Homo sapiens: one gene and its partner. The protein of the gene in region 2 purifies or fractionates together with the protein of the main gene of each other region. This does not show direct contact. Each region holds a gene or a part of one and is shown on either strand. Other genes may lie near its edges.

Region 1 (3,653 bases), on a different chromosome or scaffold from region 2:
AATTCTTCATGTATTTATGTCCAGTGTCAACTAAAACTAGGCAGTCATCATTTTTTTTGTTTTTTTTGAAACAGAATCTCACTCTGTCGCCAGACTGGAGTGCAGTGGCGCGATCTTGGCCCACTGCAACCTCTGTCTCCCAGGTTCAAGCAATTCTTCTTGCCTCAGCCTCCCGAGTAGCTGGGACTACAGGTGCACGCCACCATGCCCAGCTAATTTTTGTATATTCAGTAGAGACAAGGTTTCACCATGTTGGCCAGGATGGTCTCGATTTCTTGACCTCGTGATCTGCCCGCCTTGGCCTCCCAAAGTGCTGGAATTACAGGCGTGAGCCACCACACCTGGCTTCAAGCAGTCATAATTTTATGTTTCCTAACACCCAGAGTTCAAGTTCAATATTATAATAATTAACAAATCTAAAATTGCCAGGAAAAACAAATGGAAGTGCAAGTCCCTCTAATGTATATAAAAAGCTGGCCTGTCAAATTACATTGCTGGTATTAAAAGAAATCACAGTGCTTATATAAGCTAATTCTTCTCTCCTCTTTCTCCTCTCACTATACAGATAGGGAAACTGAGAATCAAGGAGGTGAATTACCTTAAACCTTGCGGAAAATAAAACAGTGGTAGCACCAAGGCTAGAATCTTTTGGATCTCCTGACTCCCAAAACAGTGCTATATAGTATGTTAAATACCACCCCATAAGCAAATATCATGAAAAGAATTCCTGGAAAAAGTAAAACTAAAAAGTAAATCTCATAAAATGAAAAATACCTAAACATAATCTAGCAAAAATACAATAACAACTTTTTAAAAAAAGTTTTCAAACATCTCAGCTATAATAACAATGAAAGGCATATAAATAAAGGAAGAATCACTTAAACAAGGAATCCACTTCAAAACTTTTTAAATGCCTGAATACATACTTGAATTTGGAGTGGGTGAATCATTAGTTTCATTAACATTTCCTGATCTGGTAAAACAGAATCCAAATCTAGTTCTTGACATTTCACAGCCTAAAAATTACAATAAAAAAGTTACTAATTCAATTCTTATTTCTGAAAATTAAAAAAAAAAGAACAGAATTGTTTAATGACAGTCTTACCTTACTCAAAAACATAGCATAGTAACGATGTAGTGGCAGATGAAAAGTGACTTGGTTAGGTGCTGGCTGGAATAAACAAACAAAATGCACAAGTCAAAGACTATTTTATAGAAATTTTAAGATGGTTGTAAAATGTTTAAACCATACTCTCACCTGGATTTATTCCTATACTTTTAGTTCAAAACTTAACATTTTAGAAGATGCAGATTCCAAAATCACTATAGATAAAATTTTTCCATTTTAAACACTTAAGTATAAGTTTCTTGAAGGCAGAAATTGTATTCTACTCAACTTTGAATCCTCTGAAGCATCCAGTACAGATTAATATTTCCTAAATTCAATTCAGCTAAAGCAAATAATTATTATTAAAACAAGGGATGGAATGGATTTCCAGCTACAGTAGACCATTTGGGACTCTTCAAACGCATGTATACCAAACATCATGACAGTAATAACAGTCACATATAACATTCATTGAACACTTCCTATGTGCCAGTCACCATGCTAAGCACTTTATTCACATTACCACATTTAATCCTCAGAAGAATGCTATGGGGTAGGAGCTACTAATATTCTCATTCTACAAGTAGCAAAATTCAAACTTAGAAAACTTAACTAACTTCCTAAAGTTCAAAAGTAGTGAACTGGGGAGCTAATCTGGACTCCACTGTCATATTCAAAACTGTAAGAAGACTCTGACCACATCCCTAAACAGAGGTATAAATGCAGGGCATCGTTAGATTCCTTCACCAGTTAGATAAGATGCTTCCAAACAGTACCAAACGCACCAGCCTCCATAACAAAACTTCATAAAAAATATGTGAATGACCTTAGGCATTCCTGTAAATATTACAAAAACTGTATTTTAAATCTGTGAATCCCATGGATCACAAAATCACTACAGGGCAAAAATACACCACAGCTGTCCTTCTTAAACAAATGAGTTAAGAACTGAAAAGGTATTGTTTGTTTTTAATGCTTTTTAAGTTCTTATTAAATATTCTCTTGTTAAAAATGTTTATCCCGGACATTCAGATAATTATGCTAATGTATATAATTTACATTATAGAGGTTATAAGGAGTCTAAATATGTCACCATCCCTGAAATAATTATTTTTTTCAAAACCAGTAAGATAATAATATCCTCTTCAATATGTAAAGGCTATAAAAATTTGTTCTAATAAATAAAAGTTTGCCCTCCATAAAAAGAAAGGAAAGTCTAACAATGTTCTGTAACATGAATAAACCTTCGGGATATTATGCTAAGTAAAATAAGCCAGTCACAAAAAGACAGTAACTATATGATTCCACCTATATGAGGTTCTTAGAGCAGCCAAATTCGTAGAGATACAAAGTAGAATGGTGGTTGCCAGAAGCTGGGGGAAGAGGAAATGGGGAGTAGCTATTTAATGAGTATAGTTTCAATTTTATGAGATAAAAAAGTTATGGAGATTGGCTGCACGACAATACAAATACACATAACACTACTGAACTATACACTTAAAAATGATTAAGATAGTGAATTTTATGTTTTCTGTGTATTTTACCACAATTAAAAATAAAATTTTAAAAAGTTTGCCCTCCATTACCATAATCGCCTTAGTAACATATTCTACACTAACTAGCTAAGTCAGAATCTCCCTCAATTTCCTTTGAGGCACTAAGCACAGTGGATAAGTGCAGACTCTTTTTTTTTTTTTTTTTTTAAATAGACAGGGTCTCACTCTGTGGCCCAGGGTGGAGTATGGTGGCACGATCACAGTTCGCTGCAACCTCCACCTCCCGGGCTCAAGTCATCCTCCCTCCTCGGCCCCCTGAGCAGCTGGGACTACAGACACACACCACCATGCCTGGCTAATTTCTGTTTTTGGTAGAGACAGGGTTTTTGCCATGTTGCCCAGACTGCTCTCGAACTCCTGGGCTCATGCAATCTGCCCGCCTCAGCCTCCCAAAGGATTGGAATTATAGACGTGAACCACCAGGCCCAGCCTAGGTGCAGACCCTTTTTTTGAGTCTCGCACTGTCCCCCAGACTGGAGTACGGTGGCGCGATCTCAGCTCACTGCAACCTCTGCCTCCCGGGTTCAAGCAATTCTCCTGCCTCAGCCTCCTGAGTAGCTGGGACTACAGGCATGTATTACCACACCGGCTAATTTTTGTATTTTTAGTAGAGACAGGGTTTCACCATGTTGCCCAGGCTGGTCTCAAACACCTGACCTCAAGTGATCCACCTGCCTCGGCCTCCCAAAGTGCTGGGACCAAAGGCGTGAACCACTGTGCCTGCTTCCTAAGTGCAGAATCCTGGTTCTACCACCCAGCTGTAAAACTATGGGCAAGTTACCTCTCTGTGCCTAAGTTGTCTGATCCTTAAAGTAGGAATAATAAAGAGTTTAGTAGCTGCGAGAAATAAGTAAAACAGCACAGTACCCAGTACATATTGCTATTAACTAGTAAGCCATGGACCCTATTTTATCTTTCAGGGCTTTAGCATATCCTATGTTCACATTCTCCATAACGTTAAAGTCCATATTCCTTCCTTGTCTAATGTC
Region 2 (3,653 bases):
GTACTCCAGCCTGGGTGACAGAGTGAAATTCTGCCAAAAAAAAAAAGACTAGAGCCCTCCTACATAAAAAAAAAAAAAAAAAATGGAGACAGGGTCTTGCTCTGTAGCCCAGGCTGGAGTGCATGGTGCAATCATAGCTCACTGCAGCCTTTACCTCCTGTGCTCAAGGGATCCTCCCACCTCAGTGTCCTGAGTAGCTGGGACTATAGGTGTATGCCACCATACCCGGTTCATTTTTTATTTTATTTTAGTTTGTATTTTTGTAGAGATGGGGTCCTGCTATGCTGTCCAGGCTGGCTTTGAATTCCTGGCCTTAAGTGATCCTTGTGTCTCCACCTCCCAAAGTGGTATTACCAACGTCAGGCACCATGCCTGGCCTTAGAGTCCTATTTGAATTTGGGGACCCTCTTGGGACTGGGCTATTATTTAGGTCTGGAGGCACAGTCAGGTCTGGGGACCCTGGCATCCTACCCGGTCCTCGCGGCTGCCTGTCTCCTCTTCTTCAGGACCTCGTGAACTGGAGCCGTCGCTGCTGCCAGGGATTCGCATCAGGTTCTTTTGCTCGGAGAAAGAGGCTGAGGCTGACAAACAGCGACCGGTGGAGTTAAGCGATGGGCGGGGTCACAATGTGTGCAGACCAATAAGCGGGAAGAGAGAGGACTGGGAACCAATGAGGCTGATTGGGTAGGGCTGTTGGAAACCAATAAGAATCATTCCCACCGAGGAGTGTGACCCTGGGAAGGCCTAGTTAGGGCTTAAGGAGGGAACCAGAACGTGAAGGAGAGCTAAGCCCTGTGCAGAGCTGGAAATGGGACTGGAGCCAAGGCCCAAGGCCAGGTCAGGTCACTGGGCAGGCAGGGCGCGTGTGGGGCTGGGGCCTCGGGAGCCGGGGCGGGGCTCAGGCACTAACCCTTGCTGTGGCGCCAGCAGCAGAGGGCCACCCCAGTGATGACCATAAGGAGAGTTGTGGTGGCAGCGGCCACTCCGGCCACTATCCGCACAGTGGGCAGCAAGTCTGCAGGGAGCAGAGGGGACATCCTGAGAAGGCTGAGGGGGAACCAGGAAGCGGGGGCTCAGGGATTGAGTTTGGGATTCCTGGGTTCAAAAGGTCGCACATTTGAAGATTCAAAGGCCCTTGAATTTGGGGTTCCCCAAGTTTGAGAGTGAGTTTAAACTCCCTGGCTTTAGGGAGTCTTAGAATTTGAGGGGTCCTTTACTTTGCAATTTGCTTTGCAATCATTGGAGTTTCCCTTTTTGGGGCCCCTAGGTGTGAGGAGTCTCTCAGTTTAGGATTCAGAATGTGAAGGCATTTGTGGTTGAGGGGTGTCTTGGGAATCAATGAGCCCACAGTTTTGAGACTCCCGAGGTTTGGAGGTCTCCTCTGCATTTGAGGGTATGAGGTTTTGCAGCCCTCGGCTGGGGGATCCCTGCGTTTGTGGGGTTTAGACTCTCCAGATTTGGGGTCTTCGGGCTGGGGTCTCACCTCTACGGCCCAGGCTGGCCTGGGCACCTCCCTCGCCCAGCCGGTTCCGGGCACTGCAGTTAAAGCTCCTGCTAAAGTCAGACTCCTGGGTCCCCGAAATGTGTAGCACAGAGATCAGGCCCGGACCCAGTCCCCCGCGGCTCTCTGGGGCAGGGAATGTCTCCACCAGGAACCGGCCCTGCGACCCCGCCTCCAGGAAGCCCTCATCCCAAGACCAGACCTGGGGGCACAAAAGAGGGAGGACACGGAGGAGACTGAGGAGGGGAGGAAGAAGCAGGAGGGATGTCTGGGAAGTCAGAAATGGTCACAGTAGTTTCGGGGGGCCAGGTGGGAGGTCAGGGATCACGGCTGGATGGGTCACGGGAGGAGTGACATTTCCTTACCACGGCATCTGGGGCGGGAGAGGCGAAAACCAGACACTGGAGGCGAGCAGGGCCCCTCAGGAAGGCAGGCGCAGAGTGCAGGGCGGTCACTACTGGGGGAGCTGGGATGGAGACTGTAGGTCACTCAGAGGAGAGGTCTTGCCCTCCCCAAAGGCTGTAACAAAGCCGGGTCTGTCCAGCGCACTCTCCGCTAACCTCAATCAATCAGGCCACGCCGCCTCCAAACTCCGATTCTCCTAAAAGCCTCGCCTTCAATAGGTCCGGTCTCCAGCCCCCGCTGGGTGTAAAGCTCCTTCCAGGCCACTCCCACTGCATTAGCCCTTGCCCCCTCTGTCCGCTCCCTATCCCAGGACGGGCCAGGTCCCCTAGGAAGCCCCGCCTTCTCACCGTTCACAGTCAGCCGAGCCTCCGCGGCGCCGCCCCGCAGGCCCGATAGCCCAGCCTCAGCTCTGCACACATAGTCGCCTGCGTCCTCGGGCCCCACCGACGGAAGACGCAGTGTGGCTCCAGAGCCCAGCACCTGCGACAGGGAAGGGGCGTCAGAAGCCGGATTTGTAAGGAAGCCTGGTCCCCCTCCAGCCACCGCCTCAGATTTAGGGCTGTACCTGCGCGCCACCGCGGCGGGTCCAGGTTACCCGTGGAAGCGGGTTCCCGCGCCAGGCGCAGCTGAAGGAAGCGTCTTCCCCCACGTCCACGGACACGGGCTCCGGCTTTGCCTGCAGAATCGGCCCAACTGGACGAAAGAGACTAGGGGTCACATGGCCGGGGCGGAATGCAGCCACTGACCTGGGATCAGCCAGCCCCACAGAAACACCACACCCTCTAGGGCGCAAGAATATGCCCCAGCTCCACACTCTCCTCCTCCTAATACCCCACGCTCGCTCTCCCGGCCCCGCCCCTCCAGGCCCCGACCCTCAACAGCCCTGAAAGCCACGGCCACCTTTGACCACACCCACAGGCCGGCCCCAGCTCACACAGCACATCCAGCGCAGTACTGCGGTTGGCGCTACCCACGGCGTTGCTGACCTCGCAGGACACGGGCTCAGTCAGGAACGAGGCGTCTGCCACGACCTCTAACCTTGGCCCGCGGGCCCCGAGCACCGGAGAGCCCCCTTTTGCCCACCTGAGGAAATGGTGGCGCTGTTAACGTTGTCCTGGCCTCTCTGGCACACCTACTCAGGTCCCAGCCCTTCCCAAGCTCACTCTTGGGGCTGGGGAGAGGTGGGTCTTCGTCCTCACCTGTAGCCTGTGACAGGAGGCTGGGCTGTGGCCTGGCACAGGAAAATGACCTTCTCTCCCTCCTGCACAGTGTGTGGCGAAGCAGACAGAGTCACCTCTGGGGGGTCTGTGAGGGTGGGACAATGGTCAGATGGGCAAGGACCAGGAACACCTCCGTCACTGGCCTAGGTGTCCAGTCCCTGGTTCCTCCATCCCAGGAGTCTGGGCCCCTAATCCCCTTCTCCCTTTGAGCCAGGAGTCTGGGCTTTCAGTTCCCAATTTCCCCAGTTACCTCAATGTGCCAGCCTTCTGCCCTCTCCTAGTCTCCCCGATGTGAGAGTCAAGGCCCAGCTTTCTCTTTCCCCAGGGACCCCAGCTGTCTGTCCTCTCCTGCTCGGAGTCTCACTCTGCTGCTGAGTGGCATGATCTCGGCTCACCGCAACATCTGCCTCCCGGGTACAAGTGATTCTCCTGCCTCAGCCTCCCAGGTAGCTGGAATTACAAGTGTGTGCTACCACGCCCGGCAAATTTTTGTATTTTTAGTAGAGACGGGGTTTCGACATGTTAGC

What was found.
Region 1: the proteins of KIRREL2 (region 2) and UBR3 purify together in Homo sapiens (affinity purification with mass spectrometry; one large-scale study listed by BioGRID and IntAct). This does not show direct contact.

What each region holds. Positions count from the first base shown.
Region 1 is NC_000002.12:169,921,447-169,925,099, reverse strand, and holds part of UBR3 (E3 ubiquitin-protein ligase UBR3), read right to left. Parts: intron 1,172-3,653; coding exon 1,106-1,171; intron 1,017-1,105; coding exon 927-1,016; intron 1-926. UniProt on the Homo sapiens protein: E3 ubiquitin-protein ligase which is a component of the N-end rule pathway. Does not bind to proteins bearing specific N-terminal residues that are destabilizing according to the N-end rule, leading to their ubiquitination and subsequent degradation.
Region 2 is NC_000019.10:35,859,855-35,863,507, reverse strand, and holds part of KIRREL2 (kin of IRRE-like protein 2 isoform c precursor), read right to left. Parts: intron 3,212-3,653; coding exon 3,106-3,211; intron 2,990-3,105; coding exon 2,841-2,989; intron 2,600-2,840; coding exon 2,472-2,599; intron 2,387-2,471; coding exon 2,254-2,386; intron 1,968-2,253; coding exon 1,867-1,967; intron 1,704-1,866; coding exon 1,484-1,703; intron 1,016-1,483; coding exon 911-1,015; intron 594-910; exon of another isoform or gene 582-593; coding exon 472-581; intron 1-471. UniProt on the Homo sapiens protein: May regulate basal insulin secretion.